Homo sapiens: one gene and its partners. The protein of the gene in region 4 purifies or fractionates together with the protein of the main gene of each other region. This does not show direct contact. Each region holds a gene or a part of one and is shown on either strand. Other genes may lie near its edges.

What was found.
Region 1: the proteins of ACO1 (region 4) and CTPS1 fractionate together in Homo sapiens (co-fractionation; one large-scale study listed by BioGRID). This does not show direct contact.
Region 2: the proteins of ACO1 (region 4) and LYRM4 purify together in Homo sapiens (co-immunoprecipitation; one large-scale study listed by IntAct). This does not show direct contact.
Region 3: the proteins of ACO1 (region 4) and BOLA3 purify together in Homo sapiens (co-immunoprecipitation; one large-scale study listed by IntAct). This does not show direct contact.

The regions. Positions count from the first base shown.
Region 1 is NC_000001.11:40,996,644-41,000,212, reverse strand, and holds part of CTPS1 (CTP synthase 1), read right to left. Parts: intron 2,820-3,569; coding exon 2,687-2,819; intron 384-2,686; coding exon of another isoform or gene 381-383; exon of another isoform or gene 1-380. UniProt on the Homo sapiens protein: This enzyme is involved in the de novo synthesis of CTP, a precursor of DNA, RNA and phospholipids. Catalyzes the ATP-dependent amination of UTP to CTP with either L-glutamine or ammonia as a source of nitrogen.
Region 2 is NC_000006.12:5,107,906-5,111,006, forward strand, and holds the end of LYRM4 (LYR motif-containing protein 4), read right to left. Parts: intron 1,587-3,101; coding exon 1,518-1,586; 3' UTR 514-1,517; downstream 1-513.
Region 3 is NC_000002.12:74,134,900-74,137,981, forward strand, and holds the end of BOLA3 (bolA-like protein 3), read right to left. Parts: intron 760-3,082; coding exon 694-759; coding exon of another isoform or gene 623-693; 3' UTR 501-622; downstream 1-500. UniProt on the Homo sapiens protein: Acts as a mitochondrial iron-sulfur (Fe-S) cluster assembly factor that facilitates (Fe-S) cluster insertion into a subset of mitochondrial proteins. Probably acts together with NFU1.
Region 4 is NC_000009.12:32,383,197-32,387,454, forward strand, and holds the start of ACO1 (cytoplasmic aconitate hydratase), read left to right. Parts: upstream 1-1,446; 5' UTR 1,447-1,539; intron 1,540-3,174; exon of another isoform or gene 3,175-3,246; intron 3,247-4,258. UniProt on the Homo sapiens protein: Bifunctional iron sensor that switches between 2 activities depending on iron availability. Iron deprivation, promotes its mRNA binding activity through which it regulates the expression of genes involved in iron uptake, sequestration and utilization.

The DNA of each region.
Region 1 (3,569 bases), on a different chromosome or scaffold from region 4:
GTTACCATCTTCCCAGAATGTGCCCCTCTACCTCCTACCCCAAACAACCTCAGATCCAATTTCTATCATCACAGATTCGTTTTGCCTCTTATAGAACATCATATAAATGGAGCCAAATAGTATATAACCTTTTGTGTCTGGCTTCTTTTGCTTAGTGTTTTTGAAGTTCATCCATGTTGCTGTGTTTATCAGTTGTTTGTTCCTTTTCTTTTTTAACTTTTTTTTGCAGAGACGGGGGTCTCGCTATGTTGACCAGGCTGCTCTCGAACTACTGGTCTTAGGCGATCCTCCCACAGCAGAGCCTCCCTAAGTGTTGGGATTATGGGCTTGAGCCAGTCAGTGTTCAGCCTGGTTTCTTCCTTTTCATTGCTGAGTGGTTTCTACTATATAAATAAACCATTACAAATTGATCCATTGACAGGCTATAAATATTTGGGTTGTTTCGAGATTTCAGCTATTACGAATAATTTGTCCATTTGAATAAAAATCTTTTTTTGTGGACGTTTTCAAGTCTCTCAAGTGAGTATCTGGGAATGGACTTATTGGATCACACGTCTCTACCTTGATAAGAAACTACCAGACTGTTTTCTAGTGTGGTGGTGCCATTTTACACTCCCGGCAGCAAGGTAAGAGCTCCACAGCCTCTCTAACACTCAGCCGCTCTAGGGGGTTTGTGTCACTATCTCATTGTGACTTCATCTGCACTGATTTCCCTAACTAGAGGTGTTGAGCACCTTTTCGTGTTTATCACCTACATCTTTTTTTGGAAGTGTCTGTTCAAATCTCGTGCCCACTTTTTAAATTAGGGTGTTCACCACTTTTCTACAATCTCCTACCTAAACCCTGCAGTTAGTTTCCTGAACCTCAGGGTAAGACCCAGATTTGGCCCAGTTCATGGAATTGTGGGCAGGCCCTCACCAGCCTGTCTCCAGACAGCCTCCAATTCACAATTTCCATCCACAGTGTTTCCAACTGCTCCACATCTCCAAGCCCTTGGACGTGCTCTATCTATTCTAACAGGAATGCCCCTTCCGAGCCTTCTCCATCCTACCCAACCCAACCTGGTGTCCCTCCATGAGGAAGTCTGCCTTCCTCATGTGTCTGCCACAGCAGGTTCAGCCTCTCCTATGTGCTCCTTCCTTCCTAAGAGACTCAATATTCCTTAAAGGCGGAGACCGTTGCCTTTTCATCCATCTCTCATCCTCTGCCACCTGACAAACACATGGCAGCCACAGACTAACTCCAAGTGGATAAAATAAATGAATGATGGAAAGAACTAGCAAATAAGAAGTCAGGGCTGTGTAATGGGATTTAAATTCTTAAAACTCGTACAACAGGCCATTCTGCAGGAACCTGTCCAGCAGCACAAAGCAAACTAAACTCTCACGCTGAGAAACACCTGGGAAGTAGAAAGCAAACCCCAATGTGGGGACAGCTACATGGGGCCTGTTTAACAACCTCAGCACTGAGCCCCAACTTTACCTCTGACCTTCATCTCTTCCTGAAAAGCTTCAGCTGATGGGCCAGGAAGAAAAGGAATAAAGGGGACAGGCAGAAGGGAGGGTTTAACGACAGCTGACATAGTGCTTACCATATGCCAGGCATAATTCTCAGCACTTTGTATTCATGAACTTCTTACAACAACCCTAGGAGGAAGGCACCATCACCATCCCTTTTTAACAATGTGGAAACTGAGGCACAAAGAGGGTTAAGTAAGTTGTCTAGGTCTCACCGCTTGTAGATGACAGAGCTAGAATCTGAGCCCTGGTCACCGGGCTCAGGCATCCATGTTTTTTTTTTTTTTTTTTTTTTTTTTAGACAGAGTCTCACTCTGTTGCCCAGGCTGGAGTGCAGAGGTGCAATCTCGGCTCACTGCAACCTCCACCTCCCAGGTTCAAGCAATTCTCCTGCCTCAGCCTCCCAAGTAGCTAGGACTACAGGCACATGCCACCATGCCTGGCTAATGTTTTGTATTGTAAGTAGAGACAGGGTTTCACCGTGTTAGCCAGAACGGTCTCAATCTCCTGACCTCGTGATCTGCCCACCTCGGCCTCCCAAAGTGCTGGGATTACAGGCATGAGCCAACGCGCCTAGCCACGGCATCCATGCTCTTAACCATGACACTCTACTGCCACCCACAGACAAGCAGGGCCATGCCCCACCATTCCACCAGCTCAGCTGCTGCCCGCCATGGCACAGACCAGAACACAGTAACTACCATTTACTGAGTGCCTGCCCTGCATCCCAGAGAAACCTCACAGCTCCGTGAGGTCAATACTGTCATTCCCACTCTGCAATAAGTGATAAGCACAGGTTAGGAAAGGCAGCCCACATGCCAACAAAGTCTCCAAGAGCCTCCAGCTATCAACTGTGCAGCATGCCTGTGGTCCATCAGTGGTCCCCATTTCCACAGGGCATTTTATTTGGTTACCTGATAGTCATAGCCAAGAACTCAAGTCTCTCTCACCCTCTCCTCTAGCCATCTCTCCCCTTCATTAATTCCTGAAAATGCTCTACTGTCTTCTCAAAGCCACGAAGCAACCACAAATCTTTTTAATCCTTAAAAAGTAATTCCTTAAAAAGTAATTCTGAGCTCCAAACAGAAAGCAGATATGACACAGCACCTACGAGACTACAGACTGCTTCCCTGCTCATCCTTTGGCTGTACCTGTGCCACCCTCCTTACCTTGATTTCCAATTTGTGGTTGATGGCCAGTGCAGAATGCTCCAGAGCCTTAATGACAGAGGCATAGGAGTCTGAGAACTTCGTGTATTTGCCCACAAGGGCAATAGAGCAGGTCTCCAGCAAGCGATCATATCTATCAAATAAACGTCAAGAAAAACCCAATTACTCAGAAGGTACACGCTATCATGAGACCAAAATAGCTATTTCAAGGGAAAAAAAACCACGTCTGGCCAGGATGAGCTCACGCCCATAATCCTATAATCCCAGCACTTTGAAAGGCTGAGGCGGGGGGATCTTGAGCCCAGGAGTTGGAGGTTACAGTGAGCTGACTGCACCACTGCACTACAGCCTGGGCAACAGTGTGAGACCCTGCCTCAAAAAACCCCCACAAAAAACAACAAAAACACACCTGGGAAGAATATAACGGGAATAGCTATTATCTGAGTTCTGTGTACAGACCAGTAAAGAGGAAGTAATTTTCAGATCAACATGGCAGGCTTTGTAAAGAAAAATTTTTTTTTTGTTTTTGTTTTGAAACTTACAAAGAGTTTCAACGTCTCACACAAATTTGCCTACAAAAAATTTTTTTCATACCAAAGACCAAAAAAAATAACAGACATAGACAATTCACAAGAATTAATGGGGTGAAGGCAAGTGTCAAACAAATTATGGGACATTCACAAAATAGAAAAGTCCACACTCATTAAAAGTTTTCATTGTAAAATATAATAACAGAGCAAAATGCTTATAATGTTTTATGAAAAAGGATGATAAAACTGCCATTCTGATAGCTATATGTAAGCAGACAAAGACTGAAAGGAAAATGTTGAAATGAAAAATGATTCTCACAGAGCAACGGAATGAGTATGCCCTCTCCAAATGC
Region 2 (3,101 bases), on a different chromosome or scaffold from region 4:
TGAGGCAGGAGAATGGCTTGAACCCAGGAGGTGGAGGTTGCAGTGAGCCAAGATCGCACCGCTGCACTCCAGCCTGGGTGACAGAGCGAGACTCCATCTCAAAAAAAAAGACTTTATCCTGAAATCAAAAGTTGTACTGCCAAATAGAATGGCTACACGTTACATCTATTTGAACGCATCATTGCAGCAAATCTATGCTCTCTAAAAGCGACTGGAAGACATGAGTTCTCATATGAGGGTGAGAAGAACACGGGCTCAGACAGTGCGTACTCACTCCCATGACCGTCGGAGTTAAAATGAGGGGGTGACAGTGCTGCAGCTATTCCAGGACCGGTGCTATTTATAGGAGCCTGTTCCAAACCTTAACCCACAGATACCAAATCCACTGAGCACTGTATGCAAAGGGAAACAAGAAACCGCTCTGCCAGGTCTGGTCCCTCGTAAACTCCCCAGATGACAAGCAAGTTATTTAATATGTTCTTTCTATGTTTGGAATGAATCTGTTTCCAAGAATAAAAGCATACAAACAATATCTTTATTACCTGTAATATACTTAAAGAGCAGGGGTCCCCAGTTGGTTAAACATTGAAAACAGTGGGAGAGCTTCAGAATAGAGAAAAATGACTGTGCCTCACCCCTCACTTACTGAGTCAGAATCTGCAGAGAGGGAAGTGCTGAGAGATGTCTTTTTAAAAAGCTCTCCAACTCTCCAGGTGCTTCTGTCCACCAGCCAGATTTGGGCACCGGTGCTGCCCAGCATGCCCCAGGCTTCAGGGTATGGGAGTCGCCCTGGGCTTGGGTCAGGCTGGGGCTCTCTCATTCACCAGGTGTGGGGAGGGGCTTGAGCCTGCATTTCCAGCAAATTCCCAGGTGGGGCTGAGGTTGCTGATCTGCAGTGCTCCATCTCTGGGTGTGTACCTACACACCCGTCACCTTTGTTGTACTGGGCTCAGGTATAAGTTGCAGGGTGCACCGTGTATCCCCGTAGCCCTGCCCTACTCCATGCTGCCCCCAGTCTCAAGTGGTGCTTGAACTTGCCTTCACCAAGGCAGTTCTCGTCTCAGAGTTGAACCCTCCCTGAGGGCCCCCAACAGCCCTCTCCAGGCCTTGTATCAGTAGGAAATGAAAATGCATTAATTGGGAGGGGTTTATCTGGGGTCAAAGGCTCAGGGAGATCATTCTTTTTATTGCCAAGGACCAAGAAACAAAGTGTAGAAATGCTATACACAATGGTCATGAGCTACAAGGTAGGAATGGGGTGCAGGGGAGACGTGGTAACACACAGCACTATTCTGAACGAACTCCAGCTCTCCATTCTAACACTTGAACCAAGGAAAGACAGCAGTCCTTTTTCACTAAGCCTGCAACAGAATGCAAATGTGACTTGGTTTATCAGCTCCCACAGGACAGGCAGCGCAAAAGGCTATTGTAAGCTGGTTTTGGGAGCCCCCATCTCAAACAGAGAGTGGATGCTGAAGGTGGTCCCTGGCCGCCACTGGTGGCTGGTCCCCGGCTTGCTAGGTCCTGGGCATGTCTCGATTCTCAATGATCAGCTTGTCAGTTGAATACAGTTGGCCAATGTGGACCTGAAGGCAAAGAAAGGACACAGGTCAGGAACCGTGGCCCTCTAGCCCCTGGGAAAGGCCAGAAGGAACATTTCCTAACATTTCTAATACAAACGTCGGCCATCCCAGGGCTGCTCCCTTCCGGCAACTGCACTGCGGGGCAAAGCCGGCCACTAGAGCACCATCCAACCCCCGTTTCCCTCACTGTGAGAAGTTACAGAGATCCACACACCCATTCCTCCCCTCTGAAACAGCACAGGAGGCTGCAGCCTGGGACTCGGGGCTGTGCTGAGCTGGGTGACGCCTGCCTGCTGGTGGCAGAGCTGTCAGATGTGTGCCCAGTACCTCCTCTCCTAAGAGGGCTTCCTTCCCTTAGAACTGATTCTCGCATAGGGAAGGGGTTTTAGAACAGTGCAGAAATGGGCGCCGTCTATGCTGGGGTAGGAAAAGCGCTGCATTCAGGGCAATGCAGACACCTGTCCGTGGCCCATCCCGGGTGGGGTCGAGGGCAGTTGTCTGAGTGCCTGCACCTCCTGCCTTCTATCTTTCCTGCCCCCTTCTTTTTAAAGTGTCCTTTTTATTAAGTGTCTTAATGCCCAATGTTTCCACTGTCCCAGGTGGATGCTGGAGCCATCCTCTGGGGCTAGAGCAGGTCTTTCCTCTGCAACAAAGGGTCTTGCCACAGTTTTTCTGTAAAGCATTTCCTGAGTGATACATTTTTAAGAACAAGTGGAATGGGTGAAGGAAGGGCTGATCATTAGCAACTCTATCTGGATTTCAGACCAGTTGGTCACTATCTATGGGTAATTCGGGGTGAGTAACTGCTGTTTAAGCAAACAGAGCAGCCAGGGGTCAACATCCTCATGGTTTTCCTCCCCGATCTTAGTGCTCTATTTCGAAGTGAAGGCCCCGGACAGAAGGCGATCATGTCATTACTACAGCATGTGTTAAAGAGCAGTGCTCTGTCACCAAGGACCGCCGCGCCGTCCATCTGAGGTGTCCTGTTTTCCATGCCATTTGCTCGGTCTTCAGTCTGCCCTTGCACAGAGGTATCTTGAAGGTCCGTGGCATGGATAATAACTAAGTGTTGCGGTGCAAGAGAAAGCGAAGGAAGAGGCGAGAGCAGCACGTCATCTAAGAAGAACGAGAAGTAGACAGTGGAGATATGGGGGATGGGGGGATCTTGCAGGTATTTTTAAATGCAAGTGAATGTCCTAATTAAAAACCAAAAGAGGTAGGTAGGAGTTATGGGAAGGGGGTGTAGAGAATGAGTGCTCCTAACAAGTCACAGTGATGAGCTTTGCTACTGTGTCTTCAGTCGTCCTTTCCTCTCATTAATATAGAGAAGACTTTGGACGCAAGTGGATGGGGAGGGTCTGGGGTGCTGCGTTTCTCGCAACCTGCAGGTAATGCTGATGCTGCTGGTCCACGGGCCACACTTTAGGTGGCAAGGTCGGAAATCATCTTGAGGGCTGTGAGGAGCCGCACTGGTTTTCTCAGGGGCTACGGTACAGTCACGATGAATGCAGCACAGGG
Region 3 (3,082 bases), on a different chromosome or scaffold from region 4:
GCTCCTCGGTGTGACTTGCTCCCAAGTTCAGGGCAGGTCCATCTGATTGGCTGAGTCTGGAATATCTGCCTGTGCCTCAGCTGTGAGGGAGGCAGGGAAAGTAAGCCTTTTCAGCTTCTGTCGTGGGAGGTGGGCTCTGCCTCCTACCAAGAATCAAAGGGTGGAGGATCTTCAAACACAGGAAAAGAACCCGGATCCTGGCACCCCCAAATTTTCAGAGTCCATTTCAGAGCATAAGAAATTGAGGGTCCAAGATCATTCATGTAAGAAGTTTAGAGGGGGAAGAAAAGAATGATAAACGAAAAGAACAGCAATAGTAAAGGATCTTTTCTTTGTTTCAGTAAGATGAAGAGGCCTGAGCAGTTTCGTGGAGGGGAAGAAACAGGAAAACCTCTTCAAAAGACAAAAAGCTGGCACTGCATTCTCTCTCTGTAGCAGGACAGAACTGTCTAAAGACAAGACCCCTTTGGCCAAAATAAAGGAACCTGAAACATTACTAATGACCCTTCAAAAGCTTCAGTTGTTTGTTTCCTTTAATTAACATCTAAATAGATTATACATCTTCTATAATTATAATATGGAAATGTATATGAGCAAAATATATAAATTTTTTGGTGACTGCTTAGGGAAGAATGATGTCAGTGAAGTTCATCCAAGGTCTTAAGCAGCAGCATCTATGCAGCCAGGGCGTGGTCAGCGTTTGGGGACAGAGGTAAATATCCGCAATCCATGCATCTCTTTGATTTCTTCTTTTAGTGCCTAAGTAAGAAAACAGCATCATCAGTTTTTGTGTATTTGACGTTGATTACAGTAATTCTCTGAGAGTATTTTTATACAGCTCTGCATCTGAAGGAGACTTTGTATGTGCTTTGTTTAAGCAATTTTTCCTTTTTTTGAAAAACAATTTTTTTTAAATCAATAATATCTAACATGATTTAAAGATTCAAAGGTACAAAAAGGCATTCAGGGAAGTCTCCCTCCTATACCTGTCCATCTCCCCAGTTTCCACCCTTGTTCCCAAAAGAACTGTTGTTAGTTTCTTGTGTATCTTTTTTTTTTTTTTTTTTTAAGTCATGGTCTCGCTCTAGCGCCGAAGTTGGAGTGCAGTGGCGCGATATCGGCTTACTGCAAACTCCACCTCCTGGGCTCAAACAATCTTCCTGCTTCAGCCTCCCTAGTAGCTGGGACTACAGGCACATGCCACCATGCCTGGCTAATTTTTTTATTTTTTGTAGAGGCAGGGTCTCACTATATTGCCTAGGCTGGTCTTGAACTCCTGGACTGGAGCAATCTGCCTGTCTTGGCTTCCCAAAGTGCCGGAATTACAAGCGTGAGCCACTGCACCTGGCCAGTTTCTTGTGTATCTTTACAGGGACTTAAAAATGCATATTCACCAGGCATATTCAAGCTAATATATTTCACCCCATGACCTTTTAAAACGCAAATGGTTAAAATTTCAAACACATTACACCAAGCTTGTCCAACCCACGGCCCATGACAGCTTTGAATGTGGCCTAATATAAATTCGTAAACTTTCATAAAACATTTTGAGATTTTTTTTGAAATTTTTTTTAAAGCTCATCAGCTATCATTAGTGTTAGTATATTTTATGTGTGGCCCAAGAGAATTCTTCTTCCATTGTGGCCCAAGGAAGCCAAAGGACTGGACACCCCTGCTCTACACTTTGCTCTTCCCCCAAACATCTATCTTGGAGATCTTTCTATGTTAGGCATATATGGGTGTCCTGATTCTTTTTTGCATCAGCATAGTATTCCATTATATGAATGCATTATAACTTTTCAACCTGTCCCCTAGCGAACTTTTAGGCTGTTTCCTGTGTTTTGTTATTTCGAGCATCAAGCATTCTTTAAAATGAGCAGTTCTTTAAAATCATACCAATTAGCACAAATTCCCCAATGGTCAGAGCAGGAAATAAAGTTTCAAAGGAATTATGGGACTTGTTTTAAGGCTACAAATGGTGTCAGAGCCCAAATCTGAAGGAACTACCAGAGTCAAATAGATATTTGGCCCCTGTAGTGCTGGGAGAAAGTGAGGTTACAGAATCAGAGTGGGGCTTGGACCGCTCAAGTTTATAATCAGTACAGAGGAAGAAATAAGGTCCTTTTATACTAGGCCAAAATCTGATAATCATACTAGAGTGGACATTTTTCTTTTCTAGTCTCTTTAGTGATCTCCTTCTCTTGGGGAATAATTCCTTTTCCACTCTATTGTATAATTCTGGTGGAACCACCAATTGGTCTGATATTGAGGTCATTATGTGCCACTGGCCCAGCCTATGATTGGACCGAGGTGGCACATGACCCAAATTGGGCCACTTAGAATCTCCCTTGGGATTTCTGAGAGTGGAGCCTTGTTTCTTGGGCCAACATGCTATGAAATTAATTGGAGGTGGCCATGGACTGTGTTTCCCACCAAGGAGAGAAAGCCCATCTTTAGCAGGAGAAAAGGAGACCAACACAGGGAAAGAAGCTGAAAGCTCAGAGAGAGAGAGGAATCTAGATATGCCAGAAACCAGATAATTTTGTTACATGGGCCAATTAATTCCCTTTGTTTGCTTATGCTAATTTTAATTTGGTCTCTGTCTCTTACAATATAAAGAATCCTAATATATGTGGTCAGGTTTATAGATCCTTAGACACAATCTAGTCCCATCCCCTTATTTAATTAAAAAAAAAAAATAGAGTCTACTCCTTGTCCAAAGTCAGCAAACAAGCGAGTAATGGAATCAGGATATGAACCCAGGTATCCTGAGGTCCTGGCCATACCTGGTTTCCATCATGTTCCTGACTTGCCCTGATCCGGGAGCTCCTGTTGTGTTGGGGGACAATGAGCTGCCCCACTTGGCCTACACTGCACACCCTCCAGCTCCACAATCAAGTGCAGGGCCCTCAACTCTGCGGACAGGCAGAAATGTCCCTGGAAAAAGCCTCATATAATCACTGGGCGAAGGTCCCTGGGCCACTTGCTCTCTGCAGGCGTGGAATGCTCCCTAGAGACTGTGTCTGTGCCTGGACCACAACCAGCCTCTCCTCCTTACATCCACCTTGGCTGGGTGAGGGCC
Region 4 (4,258 bases):
AATCTCAATTCCCTTCATAGCTCTGATTTGATTGTTTTCTGCGAAGGATTCTCAGTTACACGGATGTTATCATTGAACATTAGATACTTTGCTTTCCGAATGGCTGCCTCATTAAGAATCGCAATTTAGCTGGATGTGTCCTCATCGGACTTCCCCAGCCTTCTACTCACTCTCACCTTGCCCCTACTCTCCCTACCTCCCAAGGGGACTGGAGCATGATTTTTCAGGGATTGTGGTGCACCTCTGCCATATGGTGGACATTCAAAGAAAATTTAATTACTAATGTGAATGGAAAGGATTTAGGAAGTGGGTGGGAAAACAGTCTCCTCTCATATTGGAAATACAGTTACTTCCCCTTTCAAAATAAATATAAGTATTTATATTTCAAAGTTAAATATAACTAGACGATAGTTGTACCCTATAGTGCAGTATGACAGGGAAGGTGTAGGCTTTGGTGTCAAACCAACCTAAGGACTGAGTCTCAGCTGTTGCGCATTGCACACCTGCAAAGACGGGTAATATTCTTTACTTGTAAGGTGGTTGGAAGAGCTGAACTGAATAACGTGGAAAGAGTCGATCACAGGGCTTTGTGCAGAATAGGAGGGCAGTATAAAGTAGCAGGGGGGCTATTAGTACTGGCTATTGTTTACTCATCCTATAAGCTGCTTATTCAGAAAACTACAGTAACTTTCCAAATAATTTGGGCAGGAAAACCTCACCACCTTTCATCTAGAAAGATCTAATCACTTCTTTGAACGCCATTCACCCAAGAGGGCACAACTCCTACCAACATGAAAAGCAGATCTTGTGAAAGCCCACTTGCTGCCATCTCCCAGCCATTTCTCCGACTTCAGACCGGTGAACATCGTGCATTAGAAAGTGTTGTTACATGTCCAAGGAAATCTACATATAGAACTTTTGCCACGGAAATGCTGAAGTCCTATTCTGACAGCGTGACTCCGATGTCCACTTGGCAGGCTTTGCGCAAAGAATTAAGGCGAGGGTGGAGAGGGTGGGTAGGGTGGGGACGGACAAAGTGAGAAGGGAGGCGGGCCAAGTGACCACACGTACATGAAGCCTCTCCAGTTATGGCCAAATCATTTTTTAAAAATAATTCCATTTCTTCCCCACCCTTTGGTCACTTCCTAACGCCGGCTGGGGAGTCACATGCTAAGCTCCAAAGTGAGCAACAGACACCCTCGTCCCAGGTCCCATGCTGGCAGAAGCGGACCCGGGCCGAGGGATCAGCCCTCCCACTTCCAGCGGAGGAGCCCTTCGCAACCCTAGCCTCCAGCCCGGGGCGAAGTCCTCCAGGCCCGCGGGGGCGCCCGCAGGCTCCGCCCCTTCTTCGGCTAGCTGCCCGTCCGTCCCGCCCCTGCTCCGCCCTTCCCGCCCCTGCTCCGCCCATCGCGCGGCGGCCCCGGGGGCGAGAGGGGGCGGAGCGTGGAGGCGGCAGCTGGAACCGCGCAGCGCACGGGAACGCGTCCCGCTGCTTGGGTCAGGTTCGCCGGTCGCGGGAGCCCCGCCGTGCAGTCGGAGGTGAGTACCGACGCGGCCCGACCCACGTCCCCAGGCGGGAGCGCCGTCCACCCTGTATCCCTCGAGAGTCGGTGCGGGCCTTTACCGAGGTGCCCGAGGCAGTGGCGGCACGGGGGACACGGAGGCGAGCTTGGGGAGGCTGAGAGGAGAATCGGGGACGTGTTTCTGGCGACTGACGTCTCCACCCTGTCCCCAGTCTATGTCATGCCGGGGAGAGAAACCAGGGATTGGAAGTGGCTTTCCTAGACCCTTCTTAGCCTTGGCTGTGCGTGCTGTCCTGAAAGTCCTTGCCTAGGGTGTGCGGCCAGTCCTGGGAGTCCTAACCCCGAGGGTGTGAGGCCCGCACTGGGAGTCCTCGCCCAGGCCCGGCTGGCTGGATAGGGAAACCCTTGCTAAAGTTGTGCGGGCAGATCCGGGAATCCACTCCAAGGGGTAAAGGGAAAATGGGATGAGGGGGAAGAGACCCTTCGTGGGAGGCTTGAACACAGAGCCCACCATGATAGATTCAGAGATCTAGAAAGGAGCTTGGGCTGCAGTTATGACCAAGTCATTTTTTTCTAGATTCAGCTAGCACATCATAATGGCATCTTCCTTCTTGCAACACATGTAACTCTCTTCCCTGGGGGACAACCTCTAGGACAGAAGTCCCCAAACTTTTCTGGTACTCAGTACTCCTTTACACTCTTAAAAATTAGTATCTTAAGGAGCTTTTATGTGTGTTATATCTATCCATATTTATAATATGTAAGTAAGACTGAGAAATTTGTACTATAATAATTCATTTAAAAAGAATAGTGAACTAATTATATCTTAACATTGCCTATTTTTATGAAAAAGAACTATATTTCCCAAAACAGAAAATGATTGAGAAGAGTGGCATTGTTTTACATTTTTGCAAATCTCTTTGATGTCAAGCGTAATTGAAGACAGCTGGATTCTGATAGCTGCTTCTGCAGTCTGTTGCAATATCACATATCATGTAGCCTCTTGAGACCTCCACTGTATACTCCTGAAAATGTGTGAATGAAAAAAAGCAAGTAACATTTTATTACTAGGAAAATGGTTTTGACTTTGGAGATCCCTAGGAGTTCTCTGCACCACACTTTGAGGATGCTGGTGTAGGAAATGCTTCAGAGGCTTCATTCATTGGGCCTGCTTCTTGTTTGTGATCCTTCCTCTGATTGGGAACACACACCACCTCATGCCATGGACAGTATTAACCTCTGGTATCTGGAACCAAGTTTGATCTCACTTTGGAAACCATGTACTAGGTCCCCACGTGAGGCTGTGATGAACCTTGCCAGCCTCCTGAAAAGTCAGCAAGGCTTCGCACATGCCTTTGGTTGTCTCTGTGCTTGCAGAGCTGACCTGTCTGTGCATCAGGATTACAACAGTGATGTGGCAAACAGGACCTGTAGGCTCACAAAAGTGCCAGTGGGGAGACCATGCCAAGTGTGTAGGGGTTCCTGTGAGAGTTACCAAGTAGTCAGGAAGTTATTTCCAAAAGAACAAGGAGGCATGCTTTTGCCTTCCCTTGCACGTGTTCATTTCTGTTTGCAGTTGCATGGTTATTAGCCTTGAGTTTATTGGAATAATGATTTCCAGTCTTGACGTTCTTTCACTTTCCACTTTCAGAGGGTGTCACTCTGAGTGGTGCTTCCTCAGCCCCTGTCAAAAAGCAGTTTCCACCATCCTGGAGTGTGGTAGGTGAGGTCCTTCACGGGACTCTTTCCTTAGCTTCGTGCCTTGTCAGAACAAGTTCAAGACAGATGTTATGTGTATATATTTGGGAGGAAGAAATTTTCTAACTCCATCCTCCCTTTTGTTCCTTCATCCATAGAGCCTCTTGTGCTCTGATGGATCAGTTTAAATGCTACAGCCGATACTTGAGAAATGTTGCATGCACATGAGCGTGTTGTGTGTGTTGCACAGTCCACAGGTGAGGAGGAGGAGAAGTCCACAGGAGAAGGAAATGGGATCTAAACTCTGAGCACCTGCTGTGTTCTTTGTATTAAAAAATTCCACTTTGATGGTGGGGTCTCATTCCTTCATTCTTTCAGTAGATTTTTATTGGCCACCTATTTCTCATGTGTCCAGTTATGTGCGGGATGCCAGGAAAGTAGTGAGCACAAAAGATGCAGTCCCTGTCTTTCTGGCAATTATGGTCTGATAGCTTTGATAACTGCTGGTTAATTGAGATAGTCTATTATATAGTCAGAGTGTGTACATGAAAGCTGGTCCTGTGTGAAGAGCAGTACCCCCTACCTAAAGTGTGCTTCAAAGGCATGTGCTGAAGAAACCAGTCCCACACTGTGAAGATGATGATAAAAACCAACGTGTATCACCACGTGCCTGGCAAAGAACTTCCTTTGCCTTCTTTCCCCCACTCTTCCTTCTACATAGGAAGTAATTTCCTGTGAGGCAGCCAGATTCACAGGGAAATTACCTCCAACCTGGTGCCAGTCACTGGGCCAGCCTCGGGTTAAGACACTTTCTCTGGGTCTCAGTGTCTTTGACTTTAAAATGAGGAGTTAGGCCATTGATAGTAAGTGTCCCAAGGAGCCAGTGGTTTCAGAGCTGGTTTATACTAGCATTTGTGCATATCTCTTCCTAACTCCGTGTTCAGTGGCAACACATTTTTTAGATTGAAATAAGCCATGGTGGGAATAATAACACCATGGAAATTGGCAAATGCTACATCAGAGCTTTTTTTTCCTCT